2 linked regions of the Homo sapiens genome follow. The main gene of each other region encodes a partner of the protein of the gene in region 2 in a complex. Each region holds a gene or a part of one and is shown on either strand. Other genes may lie near its edges.

What was found.
Region 1: DRC4 (region 2) and DRC3 share a complex: the UniProt entries of both Homo sapiens proteins name them as parts of the nexin-dynein regulatory complex.

Annotation. Positions count from the first base shown.
Region 1 is NC_000017.11:17,989,730-17,993,540, reverse strand, and holds part of DRC3 (dynein regulatory complex subunit 3), read right to left. Parts: exon of another isoform or gene 3,727-3,811; intron 777-3,726; coding exon 630-776; coding exon of another isoform or gene 573-629; intron 533-572; exon of another isoform or gene 452-532; intron 1-451. UniProt on the Homo sapiens protein: Component of the nexin-dynein regulatory complex (N-DRC) a key regulator of ciliary/flagellar motility which maintains the alignment and integrity of the distal axoneme and regulates microtubule sliding in motile axonemes.
Region 2 is NC_000016.10:90,029,147-90,032,957, forward strand, and holds part of DRC4 (dynein regulatory complex subunit 4), read left to right. Parts: exon of another isoform or gene 1-755; intron 756-2,029; exon of another isoform or gene 2,030-2,152; coding exon 2,153-2,350; intron 2,351-3,571; coding exon 3,572-3,778; intron 3,779-3,811. UniProt on the Homo sapiens protein: Component of the nexin-dynein regulatory complex (N-DRC), a key regulator of ciliary/flagellar motility which maintains the alignment and integrity of the distal axoneme and regulates microtubule sliding in motile axonemes.

The sequences.
Region 1 (3,811 bases), on a different chromosome or scaffold from region 2:
TGATCCTGGCTGCTTGCCCTCCTTGGGCCTCCTCAACTTCTTTTCTTTTCTAATTTTTTAATTTTTTCACTCTGTTGCCCAGGCTGGAGTGCAATGGCATCTTCTTAGTTCACTGCAGCCTCAAACTCCTAGTCTCAAGCGATTCTTCTACCTCGGCCTTGTGAGTAGCCAGGATTACTGGTGTGTGCCACCACACCTGGCTAATTTTGGTAGTTTCTGTAGAGATGGGGTCTCCCTATGTTGCCCAGGCTGGTCTTGAACTCCTTGGCTCAAGCGATCCTCCCGCCTCAGCCTCTCAAAGTGCTGGGATTACAGGCGTGAGCCACTGCTCCCAGCCCTCCTCAGCTTCTTCATCTGGAAAACTAGACAGTGCAGGATGGCTGTGAGGTGGCCCTGGGACAGTGTGTGGAAGAGGCCTGGCCCCTGGGAACGCACACAAAACAGTACTTACAAGGGTGCTGCTGGAATCACTCTGACAGAGTCAGGTAAAGGGATTAGGAAGAGGGAGCTGCCCTTTCTCTCCTAGTTGTGGGCAGGGGAAGCTACTCTTCAATGCCCCTTTTCCAAGAAACCTGGGGGCTTGAGGAATCTGTCTCACAGGGCTGGGAGACTGAGAGGGAGACACTTGCTGTGTGGTCATCAATGCGCCGGTAGTCCAGGTACATGAGGTCAGGAAGGTAGGCACAGATGAACATCTTGTAATCCTCTGCCTCAGAGATAGGGTTCCTAGAGAGGCTGAGCGTCCGCAGGCACTTGAACCGCCGGAGGTAGATGATCTGGGGAGAAAAAGGGAGAAAGGCCCATTTTCTTGGCTGCCACAGAGTTGAAAACACAGCTGCACCTCCCTCCTCAGTACTCTTTCAGAGTCAGCCTGGCCACAGCACCATCAGCACTGGGGTGGGGTGACAGGCAGTGTGCAGGCGTGGGGGTGTTCCAGGCTGGGAAGCAGTACCGAGACCTTCTGTCAGAAATGGGCTTTTCAAAGAACCAGCAGACCATGGTTCAGGTCTGCTGAACCATGTGGTGAGACCTTGAACAAGTTACCCAACATCTGTGAGCTTCAACGTCCACATCTGTTAAACGGGTATAAGGATATCATGTGTGTTACAGGTGTTATAAAGACCAAGTGAAATAAGCTATAAAAAGCACTGGAAGAGTGCCTGACACCTATTCGGTAATGGGCGTTTTAGTTGCTGTTACCAGCATAGGCATACCCTTCTATTTATTTTTTAAAAATCTTTTAAATTTAACTTAATTTTATTTTTTGAGATGGAGTCTTGCTCTGTTGCCCAGGCTGGAGTGCAGAGGTGCGATCTTGGCTCACTGCAACCTCTGCCTCCCGGGTTCAAGTGATTCTCGTGCCTCAGCCTCCCGAGTAGCTGGGATTACAGGCCTGCACCACCACACCTGGCTAATTTTTGTGTTTGTAGTAGAGATGGGATTTTGCCATGTTGCCCAGGCTGGTCTCAAACTCCTAGGCTCAAGCGATCCACCAGCCTTGGCCTCCCAAAGGGTTGGAATTACAGGCGTGAGCCACCGCGCCCGGCCCTATTTTGTTTTTAAGTAGGGATGGGGTCTTGCTGTGTTGACCAGGCTGGTCTCGAGCTCCTGGTCACAATAAATCCTCCCACCTCAGCCTCCCAAAGTGCTGGGATTACAGGCGTGAGCCACTGCACCTGGCCAGGCATGCCTTTGTAGATTGTAAAGCCCCATGGAAGGTACAAATATCTTAAATTAAATGGGACCCAACTTATGGCTAACCTTGGATTCCCTGGATAACAGCTAGGGGAACATTCCAGTAACTTTATTTATTCTCCCTACACTCTATTTTTAGTAAAATGAGGAAAATGTTAACCAGGTAGTTAATATTAGATTGGTGCAAAAGTAACTGTGGTTTTTGCCATTAAAAGTACTGGCAAAAAAGTATTTTAAAAAAGCAATACTTTGGCCGGGTACAAGGCTCACGCCTGTAATCCCAACACTATGGGAGGCTGAGGCAGGTGGATCTTGAGGTCAGGAGATGGAGACCATCCTGGCTAACATGGTGAAACCCCGTCTCTACTAAAAATACAAAAAAAAAAAATTAGCCGGGCATGGTGGCAGGCGCCTATAGTCCCAGCTACTTGGGAGGCTGAGGCAGGAGAATCGCTTGAACCCAAGAGGCGGAGGTTGCAGTGAGCCGAGATTGCACCACTGCACTACAGCCTGGGTGACAGGGCGAGACTCCTTCTCAAAAAAAAAAAAAAAAAAAAAAAAGCAATACTTCATTGGATAGCATCTAGACACTGTACTATGCAAAAGATAGAAAAAAAAATCTAGCATGCTTTTCTGAGTGAATTTCTTTCAGTCATTTATTAGTCACCTAGCAGCAAACACTATTAGTCACCTAGCAGCAAACACTATTAGTCACCTAGCAGGCCTCCGGCATGTGCTAAATTATGAAGATACAGTGGGGAACAAGGCCTGTGGGGTCCCTGCCCTTATGGCAAGAGCACATATTTTAGGAGTGGGGGAAAAATGTTTTCTTTTTAATTTATTATTATTTTTTTTAGATGGAGTTTTGCTCTTGTCACCCAGGCTGAAGTGCAGTGGCGCGATCTCGGCTCACTGCAACCTCCACCTCCCAGGTTCAAGCGATTCTTCTGTCTCAGCCTCTGGAGTAGCTGGGATTACAGGCACCCGCCACCACACCCGGCTCATTTTTATATTTTTAGTAGAGACGGGTTTCGCCATGTTGGCCAAGCTTATCTCGAATTCCTGACCTCAAGTGAGTCGCCCACCTTGGCCTCCCAAAGTGCTGGGATTACAGGTGTGAACCACCGGGCCCGGCCAAATGTTTTAAAAAGTAAATAAAACCATTATGCTTTGAGTTAAGTGCTGTAAGGAACATCAAGATGGCACCCTGAGAGAAAATAACAGGGAGGCCTCTTTCAGTTAGGAGATTCAGAGGTCTCTCTGGGGAGGTGACATTTAATCTGAGACCTGAGGGAGCCAGCCGCAGAAGAGCAGAGGAGAGCACATTCCTGGAAGCCAAGACAGCACAGGCAAGGGCCCCAGGCAGCAAAGAACTTGGCACATGCCAGGCACTGAGCAAAGGCCAGGGTGGCTGCAGAATGCGGGGAGAGGGCTGGGAAGAAGTTGAGATGGGAGTAGAGACAAGGTCAGGGGCTGATTCATGCAAGACCATGCATGGGTTTGGATGCTGCCTGTCTGGCATGCAGGGCAAACTTCTGAGACTCCACCACCTCTGTGGCTTGACCCAACGGAACTGCTAGTGACAACTCGGTGCTTCCCACCCCAGGCTGTTCATGTAAGCCCAGCCTGGCCGTCACCCAGCCATGATGTTAGGCTGAGGGTCAGTGTAGACCCTGAGGGGGCTTGATCAGACTAAAGGGCCACTGTCGGAAGGAGAGTTCTTGCTCTCTCCATCCTGCTAGATGCAGACAAGGAAGCCCGTGTCCTTGACTGCAACCATTAAGAGAATCAAGCTCTGGGGAGATGCTGAGGATGGCAGAGCCCAGAGGCAGAAGGAACTCACGTCCTTGAAGCTCTGCTGATAAGCACCCCTTCCTTGCAGTGCCAATTATCACGCCACTAAATGCCCTTGTTGTTTGCCGCAGGGGCTCAGCTTACCTCCGGCTTCAGCTGTAGCCATGAGAGACCTTAGCTGGCAGCGTCCTATCTCATTACTCACTTTCTGCCTCAGAGATATCTCTGAAGCCAAAGAAGCCCACCCAGCCCAAAAGCCAGGTGGCAAGAAAGTTAATCCCCCTGGGGTCTCCCTCAGCTGTTGCGGGAATCAAATGCCTTA
Region 2 (3,811 bases):
AGCCTACGGGGCAGGCTACGGGGCAGCTTACGGGGCAGGCTATGGGGCAGCCTACGGGGCAGGCTACGGGGCAGGCCCTTGCACTGCACATCGCACGTTGAGCCACAGACTCAGAAGGCTTCTTCAGGGTCCAGGCAGGTGGGGAGGGATGGGGGTGACCTGGAGACTCCTGCCCCGCAGCAGAGGACAGTTTCATCTGTTCACTGGGGAGTGCCTTGTGGGCCTAGGAGTTCAGTGCTGTTTTTTTCTGATTTTCCAAGAGAAGCTGGAAATCTGGATATTTATAAGAAATCTGAATATTGAGTGATGGCAAAATCTCAACACCATGTGAGCCAAACAGACCAGTCAGGAGCCCTGGTTCAGGCTCTGCCCAGGAGCCTCTAAAGGTCTGTGACGTGAAGACATTTGTCGTTGTGCCGAGGCACTGGTTGGATTCGGGGGTGCGTGTCTCCCTCATGTCTGCCCGGCATCCTCGGCTCAGAACCCCTCCTGCTGCTCCTTCTTGTTTGCTCGTTGTCTTGTCTTCTTTTGAGGTGAGAAATGTGTTTTCCCTGTGGGGAATGTGGTGTTGAGAAAGAAAAAGGCTCACAGTAAGTGGCCTGGGGCTGTGCCCGAAAAGTAACTGATTCTGACGGAATCTCGCTGTGTGGCCCAGGCTGGAGTGCGGTGGCGCGACCTCGGCTCACTGCAAGCTCCACCTCCTGGGTTCACACCATCCTGCTGCTTCAGGCTGCCCAGTAGCTGGGACTGCAGGTGCCTGCCATCACGCCCGGCTAATTTTTTTGTATTTTTAGTAGAGACGAGGTTTCACCGTGTTAGCCAGGATGGCCTTGATCTCCTGACCTCATGATCTGCCTGTCTCTGCCTCCCAAAGTGCTGGGATTACAGGTGTGAGCCACCGCGCCTGGCAGTAACTGATTCTTAAGGGAAATGAGCTCCCGAGAAAGCTGGAAGCCTGTCCTACATTTTTTTTTAACCTATTTGCAGATTCGCAATTGAACCCTCTTGAGATTTTAGAGTCTACTGGTTTTGTATATTTTTTGCTTAACATTATATCTTCAAAGGTGAATTTTTTTTCATTTAGCATTATGATATGAATTTGTTTAAATGCTGCTACATCATTTGCATATTTTTTTTGGGTTAATGTGATATTTCTCCTAGTTGATATACTCTAATTTTTCAACCATTTCCATATTTATTTATTTATTGTTTAGAGACAGGGTCCTGCTCTGTCACCCAGGTGGAGTGCAGTGGTGTGATCACGGCTCACGGCAGCCTTGACCTCCCAGGTCCAAACGATCCTCCTACCTCAGTCTTCTGAGTAGCTGGGACTATAGGCATGTGCCACCACTCCTGGCTAATTTTTTTTTTTTTTTTTTTTTGTAGAGACAGGGTTTTGCCATGTTGCCTAGGCTGTTCAACTCTGGGGCTCAAAAGATCCTCCCAAAGTGGTGGGAGCCACCATGCCTGGCTGTTTGTGTATTTTTTGAGACAGATTCTCACTCTGTCACCCAGGCTGGAGTGTAGTGGCATGATCATAACTAACCGCAGCCTCAACCCCCTGAGCTTGAGTGACCCTCCCACCTCAGCTCTCCCAGTAGCTGAGACTATAGGTGCGTGCCATCATGCCTAGTTAATGAAAAAAAGTTTTTGCAGAGATGGGGTCTTGCTATGTTGCCCAAGCTGGTCTTCAGCTCCTGGGCGCGAGGGATCCTTCAACCTCAGCCTCCCAGAGTGCTGGGGTTGCAGGCGAGAGCCACCGCGCCTCGCTTATTTCCCTGTTTAAACTGGTCTTAGGTTATTTCCTTTTTGATATTTTTGCTGTTGTAATAATGGTGTGGGTAATATCTTTGAGCAAGATGCTCTTATATTTCTTTTGAGAAATTTTTTAGGCATCAATTCTCAGGAATGGATGAAAGGATCTAGTTATTTTATGATTATTGGCCAAATTGAAGAGAATTCTGCCACCTGCTGAATGCATTCTGTCTCCGGAGCTTCCTAGCCTTATATTTTAACTTTTTACATTTAGCTGTTTATTTTTAGGTGAAGTTGAGTCCTCCCTCTTTCTTCCTTGCCTTTCGCCGGCCACACGCCCCGTTGCCGTGCATGGGCCCCTGCTCAGTGCCTCACCTGACCCACTGCACCTGGCCAGGTGGAGGAGCATGTCAGCCGCATCCGGGAGGAGCTGGACCGCGAGCGGGAGGAACGAAACTACTTCCAGCTGGAGCGGGACAAGATCCACACCTTCTGGGAGATCACACGGAGGCAGCTGGAGGAGAAGAAGGCTGAGCTGCGGAACAAAGACCGGGAGATGGAAGAAGCCGAGGAGAGGCACCAGGTGGAGATCAAGGTGAGTGGGGCCGGCCTGCACGTGCTAACCTGGTCACCACAGAGCCCCAGAGGAGCTGGATCCAGTGAGGGTGCAGGTGGGACATTTTCTGTTCTTGGCTTTGGGAGTCACAGCCTTAAAGGTGTTTTTTATAAAAGCCTGAGGGAGAGACCCTGCAGGTCCTGAGGGTTTAAAATGCTGCCTCCACAACATGGAAGGAATATGGGCTCTGGGGGCAGACTGGCCTGTTTGCAACTCAGCTCTGCCACTTAATACCCCATGAGCTGGGGATGCACCTCACCTCCCAGCCTTGGTGTCCTGCTCTGTGCCTCAAGTGTACAGGTTTGCATAGGTGAACAGGCATGTGTAGCTGTGTAAAGGTGAGGCATGCAAGTGAGCAGGTGGATGCAAGTGAGCATGTGTGTGCAGGTGAGGAGGCGTGGCCAGGTGAGGAGGTATGTGCAGGTGAGGTGTGGGGAGGTGAGCACGTGGGGCAGGTATGTGCAGGTGAGCAGGTAGGTGCAAGTGACCAGGTGTCTACAGGTATGTACAGGTGAGGAGGTGTAGTACAGGTGTAGTGCAGGCGACCAGGTGTGTACGGGAATTTACAGGTGAGGAGGTGTACAGGTGACCAGGTGTGTACAGGTATGGACAGGTGAGAAGGTGTGGTACAGGTGTGGTGCAGGTGAGCAGGGGGGTACAGGTATGTACAGGTGAGGTGTGTTACAGGTACGGTGCAGGTGATCAGGTGTATACAGGAATGTACAAGTGAGGAGGTGTGGTACAGGTGACCAGGTGTGTACAGGTATGGACAGGTGAGGAGGTGTGGTACAGGTGTGGTGTGGGTGAGCAGGAGTGTACAGGTATGTACAGGTGAGGAGGTGTGGTACAGGTGACCAGGTGTGTACGGGTACGGACAGGTGAGGAGGTGTGGTACAGGTGTGGTATGGGTGACCAGGTGTGTACAGGTATGGACAGGTGAGGAGGTGTGGTACAGGTGACCAGGTGTGTACGGGTACGGACAGGTGAGGAGGTGTGGTGCAGGTGTGGTATGGGTGACCAGGTGTGTACAGGTATGGATGGACAGGTAAGGAGGTGTGGTACAGGTGACCAGGTGTGTACAGGTATGGACAGGTGAGGAGGTGTGGTACAGGTGTGCTATGGGTGACCAGGTGTGCACAGGTACGGAAAGGTGAGGAGGTGTGGTGCAGGTGAGCAGATGGTACTCCCATTGCCCTGCAGGTGTACAAGCAGAAAGTGAAGCACCTGCTATATGAGCACCAGAACAACCTGACAGAGATGAAGGCTGAGGGCACTGTAGTCATGAAGCTGGCACAGAAAGAGCACCGCATACAGGAGAGTGTGCTGCGCAAGGACATGCGGGCACTGAAGGTGGAGCTCAAGGAGCAGGAGCTGGCCAGTGAGGTGGTGGTGAAGAACCTGCGGCTGGTAGGTGTGGCGGGGGCACCTGGAGGCTGACAG